2 separate regions of the Homo sapiens genome follow, and region 1 is linked to region 2. Evidence: fine-mapped expression QTL. A gene starts in region 2. The other region holds a variant in brackets. All regions are shown on one strand. Distances are between the middles of the regions.

Evidence for each region.
Region 1: its variant is fine-mapped to the expression of MIOS in CD4 T cells (Kasela 2017, PIP 0.95).

Annotation. Positions count from the first base shown.
Region 1 is chr7:7,603,041-7,612,735 of GRCh38, reverse strand. MIOS (meiosis regulator for oocyte development) reads right to left here. Exons shown (of 13, transcript NM_019005.4): 12 at 6,665-6,794; 13 at 3,804-5,740. The coding sequence ends at 5,644. Among named protein-coding and RNA genes, the nearest start is that of UMAD1, 33 kb to the left of the region's middle. The variant T/C (reference allele first, on the strand shown) is at 5,680.
Region 2 is chr7:7,562,069-7,571,763 of GRCh38, reverse strand. It overlaps MIOS (meiosis regulator for oocyte development), which reads right to left and starts at 4,880. Exons shown (of 13, transcript NM_019005.4): 1 at 4,692-4,880; 2 at 4,076-4,157; 3 at 3,641-3,738. MIOS-DT (MIOS divergent transcript) reads left to right here and starts at 5,699. Exons shown (of 5, transcript NR_110084.1): 1 at 5,699-5,850; 2 at 7,440-7,527. RefSeq lists enhancers at 2,453-2,512, 4,090-4,159 and a silencer at 4,410-5,059.

The DNA of each region.
Region 1 (9,695 bases), 41 kb before region 2:
CTCCTCCAAGGCAACTATGGTGCCATCAATCCTTTAACATCAGAACCTTTAACACTGTCCAGCACACGTAGGTATGGTTCTGTGTTTTGGTGAAGCAAAGACACACAGGCATGTTCAGAATTCATCACTTAAACCTAAATAACCTGCTATTATTGGAAATGAATTGAGCAAAGTGCATGCCAGATTAGACTGGACAATAATCACATAAATTCAGTACATAGAGGAGGACAGCTTTCCCACCACAGACCCAGAGCCAAAAAAGAGGAGTCAGGAAATCTCATGACGAAGATATAGGAGAAAAAATATTGAAATGAAGTTATTAATCATGTACCACTAAGCTCAGGGAAATCAGAATTATTTTACATATTCATTTCCCAATACGCTAAGTGGAGAACATAATGCACTACTTCCAAATGTAATGAAGAATTGAGAGGACTATATCTTGTTATTCTTGTATATTACTAGTGTAGAGTAAGAAATCTAGAAAATGCTTTCTGAACAATTAGATCTCAATCCAAATTTTCATAACATCTTGTAGCCTGTTTTTTCACCGCATAGAATAAATCCTAACATATGATTGTTTCACTGTGTTTAATAACAAGATACAAGGTCATGGATAACTTTTCTAAAAGCCAGTATATACATATATGGTGTGTATGTGTGTGTGTGCGCGAGAGACAGAGTGAGACAGAGAGATGCATGTACATTTATATATTCATTATTATTGGGAAAAATGAAAGATAGATATGAAGAAAATGTTACTCAAAATTCCACTCTTTAAAGATGGCCACTGTTAAAGTTTCTGTATTAACCATATCCCAAACAAATATATTTATATGCTAGATATACTATCCTAAAACTTCCCTTTCACTTACCAATATATTAAGAAACCTTTGTCAATGAAAATATCTATACTAATTGAATCATTTCTTAGTAACCCACTGTATGTATATACAATAATTTATTCTTTTCTATTATTGGACATTTAGGTTTCCAAGTTTTTATTATAAACAATACTGTGTAGAACCGTATCATAAAAATATACATCTTTGTGCACTTATGCAATCAATCCCTCAGAAAATATTCCCAGCATACTATGTCAAAGGGTATGAAACTCTTTACGGCTTCTGATTAATACAGTTTACCTGTCCTCAAGACTTAAACTCTCATAAGCTGTTATCTCAGAATGTTTCCTTCCCACATCCATGAAAATGCCTATTATTTTAAATCTATGCAGTCAGGCGAACAGTATTCTACTTTTTAATCAGCATGTTACTGATTTAGCATTTATTTGTCAGCAGTTCTATTTTGCTTGCACAAGTCTTTGATTGATATTATCTACTGATTGTTTTTTCCTCGGCTTTGAAAATGTCCTTTCTGAATTAAGGCAATTTGTCATAAATGTTGTAGTTTATCAATTTGTTTGCCTTGTAACTATGATTTTTGCCATATCAAATTTTGATGACTTGGAAAAGAAGCAAAGGTGTGCCTTTCGCTTTCTTCTTTTTCATTGCCATGTGCAGAACCAGTGACAACAGCATCCACTTCTTATTCCTGTCTATAGTGAGAAGGATTCTAGTATTTCTCTAATAGGCATCATGATGTATGAGACAGTAAAACAGGAGGGGAGAAAATGGAGAGAAAACATTTCCTTTGCATAAAAACTGACCTCAAAAACAAATTAAGAGATCAATTTTTGAATTTTATCAAGCTCTTTGTGGTTCTTCTCTTTTGGTATATTAATACTAAATATAATTAAAATATTACCCAGTACTTAATTCTTGGAATAAACCCTTCTTTGTCGTAGTGAATCATTCTCTTACGTATATAACCTACAAAGTAGTACACAGAAGCAGAAAACAGAAATTAAAAGGGCAGATTAGCAGGTCAAGACTACTGGAATCTAAGTCTTGGCTGTATTTGCTACTCATGTAACCTAGGACAAGTGACCTGATGTCCCTATGCCTGAGTTGCCTCCTTTACAGAACGGGGACAATAATGGCATAACTGCCTCATAGGTTTATGGCGAAAACAGGATAATGCGCTTGGCACCTGGCACATAAAAGGCATTAACAGTAATTTATATACTGCTGCATTTGATGCTAATTTTACTTGTGACTTTATCATGTTAAAGTTGTGTTAATTTGATATCTGGGTTGTTAGCTTTTAAAAACCTTGGGAAGCTTTCCTTCTGTCGCTGTACTCTGGGAAAAGTAGTATTTTATAAAAATTAATATATTTGTAAAGTGCTACTTGTTATAATCAACAAAGTAACCTACAACATTTTCAGGTAGGAGAGAAAACTGGCAGATGATGTAATGGAAGGAGTGAGTAGTGGACAGGGGAGCTGCTATCTAACAAGGCCTGTTTCTGTCATTGTGATGTGGGTCACTAGACTTGATACAAGATATTGACCCAAATATGTGCCTCCTACCTCTCTGATGCCTGTCTGAGCAGATGTCAGAAATTGTGCCCACTAGCTTTAATTACGGCTATTCCGGGACAGCAAGTCTCACAGTATACTTTTGAAATTATCACTACCACCCCAACATTATAATTTAAATGAACATCAAGTGTAATAGAATGGCAGAAAAAGAAAAAGTACACAGAATAATCCTGGATACTTTCTCCAAGTATCCAGATTAGGGAGTTCAATTTAAACGTAGTTAAATTAAGAGTTTAGACATAAAACTTAAAGTTTTCAATAGTCAGTTGTTAAATTTGCCATAATTTTTTCCTCTGGGTTCATTTTTATATCACATTTAACTCTTAGGAGGTCATTTGGAGGATTTTTGCATGCAGCAAAAACAGTAATACTATAAATTTATCCAAATTATGGCATTTTTCTTTTGAGACAGGACTTAGCTACTTTTGTTTACCCTATATTTGGAGTATAACTATTATTGGGAATTTTCACTCTTTTTAAGAAAATCTATTTCAGCTAACTCACACCAAGGAAATTTTCATTCTTGAGACAAATGTAGATTCGTTAAAATTATAAGTATTCATTATACTTATAATTTTAACTATAATTAAAATTATACTATAAGTATTCATTGAAAAAGTACTGATACATGAGCAATCTATGAAAATGAAGGTAACAATGACTGCTAATCACTACCATTTATAGAGCACCATGTGACAGGGATATGGCACTTCATGTTTATTGCATCACCTAATACTCCCACACTCTGAGGTAGGTATTTCTGTATCTTTCTTTTAACATATGAAGAAACTGAAGCTCAAAAAGGTCAAGTCACTTACCGAAGATCCCGAGGCTAGGATTATAATTTATGTTTCAAAGACCATGCTTTAACTACTTGCAGTCAAATGAATGACTGAAATTGAGTCATCTAATTAAATGAAGAACTACATTCTTTTAAATACTTACTATGTGAAGCATTGACAATGGGAAGCTACTTTTAAAATATACCATTTTAAAGGATAATAACTATTCTGGAAAGTGGGTTGAATTGAAAAACAGAGCCTAAAAGGAATGTTACTTCTAATATTAAGTATGAAGTCTGTCATCAAAAAAAGCACCAATATTACTTCACGTGGATTATTTGTAAAGGAATCATAATTTCTTGATTAGATACAATGACTTCAACCCAGATTTATTCAATCTTTTAAAAATAATAAAAACACTTTTAATAAACACATCTATTGATCATGTTTAGGTAAAGTATCTTGTTGAGTTTATAAACCCAAATACCAGTGACTTAGTGATAAAAATGAGAAAATAATTTGATTGTCCATGCACACTGAAATGCAAAACAGACACCAGAGACATAAACTGCATGTTTGGGCTTCACAGAAAACATTTAAGAGGTTGACACATACATACAATCTTAAAAATGTCACCCTCATATATTAGGATTACAAATAAGCATATTACATAATAGACTTTACATTCATGTTTTATACTGTATTTCCAAAACTTGTAACTATTTGAGATAATTTTACATTTTACTTTAGCTAATGAGAATGAAAATGCATATGAGTCTGACATTACTTAAAGCTGACTTTCATATTTAAGACAGTAAGTTTGAAAGGAACACTTCAAATGAAATATTAAAGGTAAAGGGTATATGTTAATAAAATGAAATCAATTAAGATTTACTCAAATGAAGGCTGGAAAAAGTACCCTTAATAGCAATCTTTAAAAAAAAATTGCAATTACCATGTCTTTCATTTGAAAAGACTGTCATGCAGGTGAGACATTTAGAGTAAATATGTACTACTTCCAATGTTTTCCTAGAAAAGGGTTTTATGTATCAGACACTCAAGGTAAAAAATAAATTTAATCTACTTTTAATATTTAGGTTACACCTCAAACTAATCTGACAAATCTTAGTTTTTATAAGGCAAAACTGCTAATACGAAAGCTCTTAAAATTCTTGTTTTATTTCTCCAAAATCTATAAAATAAGATTTACTCTTTATGAACACAGCTTCAACTACAAAATTCCTAGTTCAGTCCCTCTGCATATGGCAGATGACAGAGAAGCATCTTGTAAATTCTTTGTATTTCTCTTACAACTATCTAGCTATGAAATGAGAAAAAAAAATGTTTTAAATAAAGTACCTGACTTAGCCCCAGTAACACTTACATTTAAAAACTTACATCTAAAATGGTCTCTGAAGTGACCCCATTTCCCCAACACTTCCTAGTCTACCTTGGAAAGAACAAGGTATGGTATTCCAAATCAGGACGGAATTTGACAGCACAGAAACACTGACATAGATTATACTAAATGGCTAGTTACATATAATCTTGCATAGACTTTGTATGCAGTAAAATGTTCTCAGGTGATGAGGATAAGATGACAAATTAATATGGAGAAAAACCTTTGAAGACAAATCAGGACATTGGAAGGCAAAAGGTAGAAAGTGAAAATTTTGTATGTTCACCTGAAATGGTACATGTTTTTCTCTACTGAAGAGAAAAAGTTGTAAGATAGATTCTTCATCTTGGCTTTTCTAGGAAGACGATAATGTTATGCCAAAAGATTGCTTATCTTAAAATCAAAGGAGGGAAAAGGCTCCTTTAAAAAATACATATTTATACATACACACATAAATATACACACACACATAGACACATATATAACAGACAGTAATAAAAAATATTCTCCAGTGTGGGATAGGGGCTCTGCAATTCTAAAAGTAAAAATCTGTAATTTTAAATTAATCTGAAAGAAATCTAAGCACAGCTGAACTTAAAACTATTGTCTGAATCACAGAATTAGTCATTTTATTTTAAAAGTGCACATATTTTATTGAAAGATATCCAGTTTCAGCTTTGAAGATATAGGCTCAAAGTCTGTTCTTGGCTCTTCCAGAAATTCTGCTTCTAGAGTGTTCATAATTTCAACCAAAACTTAGAAAGTTTTTCTAAATCAGACTTTTCAACCTGCTGAACAGAACTCATGTCTATACTTCGATGTTTATTTTGGCAGCATTTGTCTCTGTGAAGCATATCAAAATCACTCAAACATCAAAACTGCTGATCTGATAGAATGATTTATTTTCCCATTACAGGTAAGTCATGAATGGCTTGTTCTGAGGTATGTTTCTGAGCTATGAAGGACACCTACTAGAAAGCTCCACACTTGAAGGGTTCTCTTAAGGTGGTAACATTTTATGGCTGGACAGTCTCTGCAGGTACCAGATTCCC[T/C]GTTGTATCCAACTGCATACATTTACACGTGCATGCCGACACAGGGCACTCTGCATGGTCCCTAAAAAAATAGGTCAAATAACAGTTAAAAATCCAAATTAGACAGACATACATTTATTTATTTATTTATTTTTTAAGAGACAGGGTCTCCCTATATTTCCCAGGCTGTACGCACACTTTTGGGCTCAAGTGATCCTCCTGCCTCAGCCTCCTGAGTAGCTGGGACTACAGGTGTGCACCACTGTGCCCACCTGTTTACTTATATCTATCTATAATGCAACTTTTCAAAATGGCATTTGGAAAAATATAGAAACTAAAACCCAGAGAAAAAAAGCATCAAAAGCATCAAATTATAAACTACTGCCAAGCTGAAGTTTAGGGAGAAGTTAAGAAACACATACCTTTTACTTTCTACATATATGGCAAGATATTTCATTTATAGTTGTGAAGGTGACAGGGATGTGCTCAGAGTTTAAATTAGCTAGTAAGACAAACTGGGTATAAATGCTGTATCAACCAGGAGCACAGGGCCACTGGCACCATTCAAAATGAAATTCAAATATGTCTTGACAGTCTTAATTGCGTGACTACATAAAAAGCTTACTTAGAAGAGAACTGAGGCAGAGGTATGATATGCTCTTTTAACATTTCATTAGTAATTCAATTGCATGGTAAATTACAGAATATTCAGTGTAAAAACTGTAAACATATCCTCTCCCCGAATAAAGTTAAATAATGTTATTCAAACATTTAACTCATACAAAACATTTAAATTAGTTCTTACATAAGTATTACCTTTATAGTTTAAGGTTACATAGGATATCTAATCACGACATGTTCACACCACCTTTGTTAACATGAGTGACAGTAAAAAATAAAATTCATACTTTGGCTAAATGCTAATAGATAAACCCAAACTATTTAGAAGCAATCTGTGTTATCCCCCATAACTCCAAGCCTATCAAAGAAGAAATGTGCTGATTACCTGAACCAACTAAGCATATGTCCAGCATGTCCACCGTGCCTGCAATTATGACACCATGTAAACCAGTTGTTAAATTGGGCTAATTTTTTGTCCTTGCTCAAGTCCACTTTTTCATCTGATTTGGTTCCTCCTATGACAAAATAAAATGATCTTCATTAACTATATCATAATATTTTATTTAAAGTTACTTTCAAAAAGCATTTCTAAAACTGTGTTCCAAATATGAATCACACATCATATTGAAATAGCAATTTTGATGGTAGGTTCTAGTTTAGATGAAGCGAAACTGAATGACAGAAGCTCCCCTACATTTTTAATAGCCAATATAAAAATGGAAAAAAAAATCCAAACCCACTAAGAAACAATCTAAATTTAAAACTTTGGAGAGACCAAATCAGTAGTTTAAAATCTTTCCACAAGGAAAATACCAGGCCCAGTTTACAAGTGAATTTTACTTAACATTCAAGGAACAGGTAGGGCTGGGTGTGATGGCTCATGCCTGTAATCCCAGCACTTTGGGAGGCTGAGGCGGGCAGACCACTTGAGGCTAGGAGTTCACGACCAGTCTGGCCAACATGGTGAAACTCCGTCTCTGTTAAAAATACAAAAATTGGCCGGGGGTGGTGACACATGCCTGTAGTCCCACCTACTTGGGAGGCTGAGGCACAAGAATTGCTTAAATCTGGGGATTGGAGGCTGCAGGGAGCCGAGATTGCACTGCTGCACTCCAGGCTGGGTGATGGAGCAAGACTTTGTCTCAAAAAAAAAAAAAAATCTATCAAGGGACAGGTAATTCTCATCTGTACAAGCCCTTTCAAAGAAGAGAAAAAGCAGAAAGTTTCCCAATGCACTTCATGAGACTTGTGTAACTTAAACAATTGCTTAATTAGACTTAATATTTTTACTTAATTGCTATCTATAAAGACATTATGCATCGATAACTATGTTAAAAATTTTGCTTGGACCATTGCAGGTCACGCTTTCATGACCAAAAGGATAATCTTGCAGTCGGGAATAGTTTTAAAAAATATCCGTTTTTGCTAATGATATGAGGTGAAAGGATGTGTAAGTAATTCAATGATTAAAGATGTAAACACACTAGAATTACTCCTGAAAGGGTCACCAACAATTAATAATGAGAGGGCAAAAAGGAAAGGGGGAAGAGATAAATAAAATATAGATCTGATATGTACACTACTTTACACCTTTGTGTAAAGCTCTCATTAGTGCTTGTCACTTTGTTTTTGTAACTTCTAACATAAACAGATAACAGACTGAATCAGAACAAGGCATATCCTTATATTTTTCTGACGAAACTGGAAGTATTAAGGTCTATCTCACTGCCAAGTATAAAGGCTTAAGATCAAATGACTTCAAATTTTAAAAGATTTATAGTGAATTATGAAGACAAGTGCCACAGAACACTTTAGGCGAAACTAGAGTTTCACTTATGCATTAACTCATAATGTAAGAAGAAAATGAAGGAAACCAGTAGATAATCTAACTTTTAAAAAATGTGTCATTGTCCAGAAGTTAAATTCTGTAAGGGCAGCGATTTTTGTCTTCTTTACTGTAACATTTCTAGCACTTGGAACAATAGGTACCAAATAAACATTTGTTGAATAAATAATATTTATAATGTTTATAATGATGTTAGAACTGTTTCAACAGATTTCTAATCTTCAAAGCACAATTGAGTATAAAAATATCAACTCTCAGTTAAATAAGCTTATAGAAATTCCAGCTATTTGAATCACAAAGCATGATGGATGGATGCAATCTCTGATTGCAGGCAAAGCACCAGGGAGGTTTAGATACTCGAGCCACTAGCCAGCACTTTATTTTTTTTTAAATTTTATTATTATTAAAGTTTTAGGGTACATGTGCACAACGTGCAGGTTTGTTATATATGTATACATGTGCCATGTTGGTGTGCTCCACCCATTAACTCGTCATTTAGCATTAGGTATATCTCCTAATGCTATCCCTCCCCCTTCCCCGCACCCCACAACAGTCCCCGATGTGTAATGTTCCCCTTACTGTGTCCATGTGTTCTCAAATTGTTCAATTCCCGCCTGTCAGTGAGAACATGCGGTGTTTGGATTTTTGTCCTTGCGATAGTTTGCTGAGAATGATGGTTTCCAGCTTCATCCATGTCCCTACAAAGGACATGAACTCATCATTTTTTATGGCTGCATAGTATTCCATGGTGTATATGTGCCACATTTTCTTAATCCAGTCTATCATTGTTGGATATCTGGCTTGGTTCCAAGTCTTTGCTATTGTGAATAGTGCTGCAATAAACATACGTGTGCATGTGTCTTTATAGCAGCATGATTTATAATCCTTTGGGTATATACCCAGTAATAGAATGGCTGGGTCAAATGGTATTTCTAGTTCTAGATCCCTGAGGAATCGCCACACTGACTTCCACAATGGTTGAACTAGTTTACAGTCCCACCAACAGTGTAAAAGTGTTCCTATTTCTTCACATCCTCTCCAACACCTGTTGTTTCCTGACTTTTTAATGATCGCCATTCTAACTGGTGTGAGATGGTATCTCATTGTGGTTTTGATTTGCATTTCTCTGATGGCCAGTGATGATGAACATTTTTTCACGTGTTTTTTGGCTGCATAAATGTCTTCTTTTGAGAAGTGTCTGTTCATATCCTTTGCCCAGTTTTTGATGGGGTTGTTTTTTTCTTGTAAATTTGTTTCAGTTCATTGTAGCTTCTGGATATTAGCCCTTTGTCAGATGAGTAGGTTGCAAAAATTTTCTCCCATTTTGTAGGTTGCCTGTTCACTCTGATGGTAGTTTCTTTTGCTGTGCAGAAGCTCTTTAGTTTAATTAGATCCCATTTGTCAATTTTGGCTTTTGTTGCCATTGCTTTTGGTGTTTTAGACATGAAGTCCTTGCCCATGCCTATGTCCTGAATGGTATTGCCTTTCTTCTAGGGTTTTTACGGTTTTAGGTCTAACGTTTAAGTCTTTAATCCATCTTGAATTAATTTTTGTATAAGGTGTAAGGAAG
Region 2 (9,695 bases):
CTGAACGAACCTGAGTTCTAGTCCTAGCTCTGCCGTATATTAGTTATATGCCTCAGAAAAGTCATTGTGTGTGGGGAACCCCTTTGTTTTCTCATCTACACAATGTAGGAGCTGGTTTAGATTAGTATTTCCCAAACTTCAGTCATGTAACACCTATGCCATTAATATTTTTCTTTAAACTGACTCATTTTTAAAATCTGAAAATTGACTTTAATCTCTTCATAAGGTCCATGAATCATGGTATGCTATGCTAAATATATTTTTAACCTACACTGAAATATATAACTATTAAAAAGGCTTGATTGTGTTTTATCTACAAAGCATCCTGTTTATGACCAGTGGTACACACATACCACACTCTGAGAAAGTGGATTAAGTGATCATTAGAGGCTCTTTCAGTTTTCGCTTCTACAAACTTTGAATAAGTGTTAAAGTAGAATTTTTGAAAAAAATAAATATTCTAGCAGTAGAAGCACACGAACTAAATATAGCTATAGTTAAAAATGGTGTTTCAATAATTAAGGTTGCCTACAAAAATTTAAATGCCTGTTTCTAACAGAGGCTGGCAAAAGGTAATAGATTCAAAAAGAATGAACATACTTAAAATCTTCATTGCAATTGGCATCTGTACAACTCTGTTGTCAGTTCTCATAAGGTAAAGCTATGGTTCACTTACCTCTCTATCCTTAGTGCCATATATAGAGCCTGGCATAGACTCCTAATAAGGATACACTAAATAGTTCAACTCAAACATAATTGCTTTTCTTTTTGATCTTGCAAAAGTTTCAGTTGGGAATTACCAGTCTAAAACTTCATAGACTCATATAATTTAGACCAGGGGTCCCCAACTCCCAGGGCCGCAGACCAGTTCTGCTCCCTGGCCTGTTAGGAACCAGGCCACACAGCAGGAGGTGAGCAGCAGGCAAGGGAGCTAAGCGTCATCTGTTATTTACAGCCACTCATCTCACACACTGCTGCCTGAGCTCCGCCTCCTGTCAGATCAATAGCAGCATTAGTTTCTCACAGGAGTGCAAACCCTATTGTGAACTGTGCAAGAGAGGGATCTAGGTTGTGCATTCCTTGTGAGAATCTAATGCCTGATGATCTGTCACTGTCTCCTATCACTCCCATATGGGACCATCTAGTTGCAGGAAAACAAGCTCAGGGCTCCCACTGATTCTACATTACGGTGAGTTGTATAATTATTTCATTGTATAGTACAATGTAAATAGAAATAAAGTGCACAATAAATGTAATGCGCTTGAATCATCCTGAAACCACACCCCCACCCCTCATCCGTGAGAAAATTGTCTTCCATGAAACTGGTCCCTGGTGCCAAAAAGGTTGGGGACCACTGATTTAGGAATTCTTATACTGGTTTTATTTCCTTCTTTAGCATTTCTCAAGCCCAAGATCAATCATTTCAATATTCTTACTAGCACCCTCAATGTCTTCATTTCCTTGCCACTTTGGGTTTGCCTTTCCCCAGTCCTAGATCAACCCAATTATTTATCATCTTGTCTCCTCACTCAGGCTTCCAAGTGCTACCACACAGAGGATAGTCTCAAGCCTCTGAAAACTGATTTCAGTAAATTAAGGTATACAACATATCTGGTGTGTGGTGCTGGAGGCTTTTCTTTTATTCATCTTTCCCCTGGTCCTTCAGAAATTTTGCTTTATAGAATACCAGAGTAAAAATCTTTCTACAACACAACCTTGACCAGGCTATCCTTCCTTGCTTAAAACCCTCTAATGGTCTTCAGCTGCTCTTAGTATAACCTACAAAACCCTAAATGCTTTTGGTCTCTGCCTACTGCACCGGCCTTGTGGCACAACATTCTTGCTGTCCTTTTACACTGTCCTTTCCACTTCCTAGAGTATATACCCTCCTCCCTCATCACCATACCTTTGCAAATGATGTTTCCTCTGGTTAGAGCACAGTTCCCTGTCTTCTGGGCCAAGTTAATACCTGCTCAACCTTGACGTCAACCACCCTCCATCCCCTCCCTAGTCGAGGTCTGGTTACTCAGACATACACTGTCATTAAACAGTATTCTTTCCCTTTAATCATCCATCTCTGTCTCTTCTACTGGATTATACACTCCATGAGAGCAGGTGAAGTATTTTTGGTGTTCCATTGTACCTCTAGTCCCCAGTACAGTGCTAGGCACTTAGTAGGAAGTTAATAAACATTTGTTAAATAAATGCATGTGCTGAATGATCCCTCTGACACTTCTCACAACTGCTATCTCCAAGTTTTACCTATTTCCTCATGCTTCCACTTCTACGCTCCCTAGGAGAGGCTGGCTCCGGCCAAGATTTAAATGTCTGCTATTATACTTTCATTTATTCTGTGACTATTGATTGGGCACCTTCTATGTTCTAGGCATGGTTATGAAGCTGGGAACACAGCAGCAAACATGAGCCGATGAAGTCTCTGGTCTAAAAAAAACCTGCACTGTAGTGATAAAATTAAGTCCAACCTTAAAAAGAGTTTCAAAATTTAAGAATGAGGAGGAAGAGGGGCACCTCACGTAACAGGAAGCAGCTACGACAGCAAAGAGGAACAGATACTGCCAAATAAGGGTTCATACTCATACCCCCACAAAGGAAATCTCTTAATTGGAGACATCATGAGATCTGGGCCATTTTCCCATCTCATTGAAAAATCAATGTTTAAATAAACACACTTTTTATCTAGGCTTTCATTCCACAACCCGACTCTTTATACCAATGGTCTATGGTAAGCAATCTTGATGCCACAAAGAAAAATCCATCTTACAAAACATAAAATACGAGTTTTAGCATAAAATTTAAAACTTTGATTTACATGACTCTCAACGGAGAATATCAGCATTTCTTCCCATGTTATGCACCTAAAATACTTCTATTGCCATCCACAAAATCTGATGACAGTAATTCATACAGAATCAAAACTTGAGAGAAAAAGACTAGCTAAATCTTCTAATTTCACAAAGGAGTAAAGTGAAGACCAGATGTTTGGGTGGTTATCCAAGGTCTCTCAACTTCCGTCCTAGATTACTGCAAAGAAAAGGATCAGCTACACGATATGCAGGACGTGGTGCAAAATAACAATGCAGGGCCCCTCATTTAAAAATTATTTACAATGTCCAGACAGTGACAGCAGACTGGCCATTAAACTAAGTGCTAGCCATTCTAAATGCTGGGCTCTGTGCTACTGCACAGGTTGCACATCATAAGAGTAGCCCTGTATAGAGAGGTGCATCTATGTCCACCCTTTTAAGAAGTGTATTTTTTTTCACCATGTAATATACAGGATAAACAGTTCCTTGCTCATGAACATACATCACCAAGAATCTGGTGTAAAGAAAACAATCTAGAGTCAGAAATCCTACAGCCACTCCCCAGCTCAGATCCTAACAAATCTTGTAATACTCCAAAACCATAAAACCGAGATAAAATCTATCCCATTTCCATCTCACAAAGCTGTGACAATCAACTGAAATGAGCTCTTCACATCACACAGATGTTAGTATTACTACCATTCCCTTAATCAGCCCTGAAAGTTAATGTTTTTTCCAAATTTTGGAGACATTAAAAAATTAGGTGTAGAAGGGGTGCGGTCTGCAATAATTACAGCTTGTATTTATATCCTCACCTTTCAAGTTTAACAAGTCTCACTTCCCATCAGTGATTTCTCAGCAAAGGAAAGCCATGCTGATTCTGTGTTCATTCACCAGAATATTTGCAACAGCACTGTCCAAAAGAAATACAGTGTGAGCCATATGATTTAAAAATTTCTAGTAGCCACATTTAAAAAGTAAAATTAGGTGGAATGAAATTTAAAAACACATTTTATTTAGCCAACATATCAACAGCATTATCCTTTCAATATGTAATCAATGCAAAAATTATTGAGGATTTTTACGTTTTTTTGGCACCAACTCTGGGAAATCCGATGTGTATTTTACACTTATAGCACATCTCAATCCCATGTGGCTACTGGACAGTGAAGTCCAACACATTAAAATACTACTCAGTGTACAAAGGATCCAACCACATGCTTTTTGATGTTGTCTTTTACTTTTCTTACCGTGGCAAATTACGAGAGCGGTTTCAAGAAATTTCCACCATCAGCATCTTCGAGGAGATGCACTGCACATATCCAAATTTCCCTTAAAATATACAAAAGGCCTGCAGTCATTTGCTAACCTATTCAGCAAAGTCCACAACATGTGTGAGGTTTCATTCATCCTCTTAATTTTCATTACTCATATGAGAAGAGAACAGAGCTCACCGGGAGACAGGCCGTTTAAGAAGTATAGTATTTAAGAGGGTACAACGGGAACAGGGCACGTTGCTATTCTAGGTAAAGCAGGAATCTGAGTCCGACTCTCCCGCTCCAGGCACCTGGCTGAGCCTCCCGGGAAAGGCTGGGACGCCGCTCCCCACAAGCCCGCCGCGGCGAAGGCTGTAGCGTGTTCCCTGCGCCCCGAGGAGGTCTCCGCAGGTCCCACGGCCGCCCGCAGCCCCCGGTGGCTCCCGCTGAGGCCCGGCCAGGCGGCCGGCCGCCCGGCGCGATTACCCTACAGCGCGGAACGCGCTCCCCGCCGAGACGCCCGGGCCTTTCAACTAGGCTATCTCCGGCCCCTCGCTGCGGCCGCGGCGCTCCCGAGAGTCGAGACGCGAACCGGGTCGCGCTCACTGACCTGAGGTGGCAGCGCGGCCGCCGCACAGCCGCTTCCGGCCGGGACACCGCCCCGCCCGCCGCAGGAGCCCGGACGCGGGCAAGATGGCGGCCGCGGCCGTGCGGCCCGTGACCTGGACCACTGGGCTGGGACCCACGACCCCACCACCACGCCTGGAGGACGCGCAGCGGCGCCTCGGCCTTGGAAGGGGAGTTTCCCAGCGCGAGCCCCGCCCTTCCCCGCCCGGGAGGCGCCTCGGGGCGGGGTCACTGGCCGGGAGGCCCCGCCTTCCGCCCGAAAGCGCCGGTGCACCCCGCAGGCCCTGCCCGTGGGTCCACAGGCCGGATCCCCGGGTTCCTAGGCTGGGACTGCTTCTCAGAACCACTCTGTCGTTTTTAAGCAGGGTCACACACTCTAGCTCACTGGGTCCATTTTAATTTCTATTAAACATTTTTTTTTTTTTGCAAATGATGTAGTAGGAGATCCAAGGTGTTTGGTTAATGATTTATTCACTCATTAGTCATTCCACAAACTTGTCTTGAGCACCTGTTATGTACCCAGCACTGTGCTGGAATGCTGAGGAGACAGGAGTGAAGTAAAAAGACATGGTTCCGGCAGGAAACAGGCAAGGAGAGCCTTGACTTGGTAGGGCTAACACAGTGCTACACAGGAGGGACGCCCGCTCGGTGTCGGGGGTCAGCAAAGCTTCCTTAAGGACCACTAGGTTGAGACAAGAAGGATGAGTATGGGATTAGCCAGGAAAGGGAAAAGGGCAGTGGGAACTGGAAGAGAAGAGCCTTCTAGGACTGGGAAAGAGCAAGTGCCGGGTCAGGAGAGAGGACATAGCAGTGAGGAGGCAGTAGGTATGGATGAATGAGCAGAGGAAGTGGGGAGAGATTAAGGTGCTTTCAGAAACGGGTTGGAAACCAGTTTAGTGAGTTTGGATGGCATTTACCTAAAGGCAATGTTAGAGTCATCGAAAGTTTTTAATCAGGCAAGTGGTATGATCAGTTTTTTGTTTTGTTTTGTTTTTTTTGAGACGGAGTCTGGCTATATCGCCAGGCTGGAATGCAATGGCGCGATCTCTCCTCACTGCAACCTCCGCCTCCCGGGTTCAAGCGATTCTCCTGCCTCAGCACCTCGAGTAGCTGGGACTACAGGCGCGCGCCACCACGCCCAGGTAATTTTTTGTATTTTTAGGAGAGATGGGGTTTCACCATGTTGGCGAGGGTGGTCTCATTTCTTGACCTCGTGATGCGCCCACCTCGGTCTCCCAAAGTGCTGGGATTACAGGCATGAGCCACTGTGCCCGGCCAGTATGATCAGTTTTTGCGCAGAGAGCTGGAGGGATAGAGTATCAGAATGAGGGATGATAGAAACGCAGGTTACCAGTGGCACGGAGAGTGGGCATGGAGAGAAGTGGGGGCCCTGGGGAATACTTAGAAGGCGGGATGAACAGAGCTTGGTGACTGACCAAGTGAATGACGGTGAAAGAGGATTCCAAGTTTTTTGTTCCCAAAACTGAGTGAATGGTGCTGCCTCAGGTGTCACGAGTCTGACCTCGAGGCAGTCTTCAGATGTCTGACAGTCTTTGCTTGTCTGTTCATGATTAAAAGTGGGTGGTCTTGGGCTTGTGGTGGTGATGGCTGTAAACAGCATAATGAGCTTAGTCCTGATGATCTTGGTGGCAGATGGTTTTGATAAGATGATGAGTTTGGGGAAAGTATTGCCTTTCCAATCCTGCCATTAGAAGAATGTAGGCTGAAGAAAGTGCTGTATTACTGAGAGGAGACATGACAGTATTCATCACTTCAAACACTATCTTGCCAATCTTCTCAGTGGTTTTGACCCTGGCCTCAAACCCCCACACAAAACCTCAGATCAATACAAATCTCTTCCTTATCCACTCCTACTATACATAGTTGAGGACAACTTTTCTGCTTGCACTCAGGAGATGACACTGCCTCCTACTTCAGAAAAGAAAATTAAAACTATTAGCTAGAATTTGCACAACCTCCCACTGCTTCCTCCTTCCCTCCTCCAACATCTTGATTCACTACCATTCTTACCTTCTTTTAGGTGACAAAGAGTAAGAGGAGGAACCCCATGTATATCTCCTCTTCTGGGACCTTGCACCATCAATTACTTCACTTCCATGTATCTTTGCCTCTCCATTTCTACTGGTTCTTTACTTTCAACACATACTCAAGTTATTCCCATTTTCTCTTCAAAGGAGAGGATCATATTTGCTCTCTGTAATTCCACTTCCCCCTCTCTCCCTTGAATTCACTCCATTCAGTCCTTCATGCCCACCATGCCACGAAACTGCCACTTGTCAAGGTCACCTGTGAGCTCCATGCTGCCAGTTTCAATGGCCAAAGCTTCACTCTTGCAACTTCTGTTGTTCTTGACTACTTCCTCTCTTGACATGTCTCATTCACTTTGTTGCATATCATCACTTTCTTCTGGTTTGTCTTTTATCCCTGTGACTTCACTGTTCCTTAAACATGACAAGCATGCTCTTGCCTCAGGGCTTCTTCACTAGCTATTCCCTCTGTCTGGAATGCAGAAATCTACATGACTCATACTCTCCCTTTACTCAAGACTGCTCACTTGTCACTGACTACCTATAAATTAGCTCCTTTGTTGTTGTCTTTATGACACCACAACTTCACATACGTCGCCATCTCTTTACTTTCCTATAGTTATCTTCTAGACTGTGTCTTCTCCTTATCTCCAGTTTTCATTCTGTATTTTTTTTCTTTTTAGTAAGAGGAAATAACTCTACATTCAAATTTGAGCAGGGCACTTGGTGACCTACTTAGACATGACATTCCTTGGCCTCCCTTTCAGCAAGGTAAGGCTATATCAAAAAGTTATGTCCTGTAAGATGTGAGTAGAACTGGATCATGTCCCTTAAAAGGAAAGCTGCTTGCTATACACTTTCTCTTCCCTCTTCTTGCTGTCTGGCAAATGGCAAAAAGAAATACAGACTGGAAATGGAAGCCATGTATTAAGGAAGGCAAAGCTGTTCTCACTAGCCTAAGTCCCAAACTAATCTCAGGGAGCTGGGGCACCTCCTCCCTTGGATCAACCACAGACTTCTGGACCATTATGCAAGAGAAAATAAACTTTGTTCTTTAAAAAATCATTGTTTGTTTGGACCTGGTAGAGCAGCTTAGCCAATTCCCTAATTAAAACAGAGGGGCTCTGTCTATTTTATTCTCTGCTTAATCACCAGGATGTAAAACAGTACCTAATAAATGTGGTAAATAAAAATGTATTGAATAAATCCTAAAACAACGTATTTATTCTACATCCTCCTCCAGCTAATGTCCCTTTTTCAACTTTCTTTTCCACTCAAGCTTTGTGAAAGTATATATTTTTTCATATTGCCACTAATTCTTCTAAAGCCCCTCACAGGAATAAGTGACACCTTTCTCAGTCTTTTTGGAAACTGATTCCCCTTCTCTACTAAACCAAGATCCTTGCAGGTAGCAATCTTTTAGCATGGAACTTTGGATTTCCCTTAGCACCTGTTGCATAGGTATCCAAAAAATATTTACTGAGTTGAGTGAGTGCTTTGTATCTTTGGAAACAGTAAACCGTAGCAGAGAACTTGACAGACTGGTCTGAGATTACACTAGTTGCCTTTACTAAACATGCGTTTTACAATAGATCCTAGGGCCACTGTAGTTCAGTCTCGGTATTTTGTTTGTTTTTAATTTAAGCTTTTGTATTCCTAATAGGATTTTTTTATTGTTGTTTTTTTGAGATGGAGCCTCGCTCTGTCGCCCAGGCTGGAGTGCTGTGGTGTAGTCTCAACTCACCACAATCACTGCCTCCCAGGTTCAAGTGATTCTCCTGCCTCAGCCTCCTGAGTAGCTGGGATTACAGGCATGCGCCACCATGCCTGGCTAATTTTTATATTTTCAGTAGAGATGGGATTTCACCATGTTGGCCAGGCTGGTCTCGAACTCCTGACCTCAAGTGATCTGCCTGCCTCATCCTCCCAAAGTGCTGGGATTACAGGCATGAGCCACTGCGCTTGGCCAGGATGTTCTTTTTAAGATTCTTCATTTATGTTGTGGTGATCCAGGAGAGGATTTTTGTTGTGGTTTTAAAACCAGAAGGATTGCAGTTGAAGGACAGCGAATTTCTTTCTTATTTACAGCTGCTCCTGGCAGCAATTCAGTTACTACAGTACTGGAACATTTTGTGAAGTCTGTGACTGGCTAATCCCAATTCTTTTTATTTCCACATGCACAAAATCAGTCTGTACCTGAGAGCAAGTTTTGCTTTTAGATGGAGGCTGGGCAGGTATCAAGCTGAAATGAAGCCCTGTAAACATGTGCCATGGCTTAGGTAATCTTTTCACATAGGTTGAAGATCAGAAGATCAGAGATATCTTAAAATAATGGCCTTCAAAAACTTTTCTAGAATATCCCCAAATAAATTTTTTAAATCAATGCATTTCTTCATGCATTTTGGGATTACACCTAACATTGTCAAAACAAATTTACATAGTTGTCAAGTATATGATTTGTAATATTTTTTAAATCTTTAAATTATAAGCAAAACAGGGCTGGGTGTGGTGGCTCATGCTTGTAATCCCAGCACTTTGAGAGGCCGAGGCAGGTGGATCACCTGAGGTCAGAAGTTCAGGACTAGTCTGGCCAACATGGTGAAAGCCCGTCTCTATTAAAAATACAAAAATTAGCAAGGCATGGTGGTGCGCACTTGTAGTCCCAGCTACTTGGGAGGCTGAGGCAGGAAAATCGCTTGAATGCGGGAGGCAGAGGTTGCAGTGAGTCAAGACTATGCCACTGCACTCCAGCCTGGGCAACAGAGTGAGACTCTGTCTCCAAAAAAAAAAAAAAAAAAAAAAGTTTTTGGAAAAATTTGACAAAGCATATCATGTGAATTCAGATTTACCTCAATACCAAGAATTATGTTTAAATAGGACAAGGAAGATTTTTTAAGTTTTTATTTTAAGTTTAGGGGTACATGTGCAGGTTTGCCATA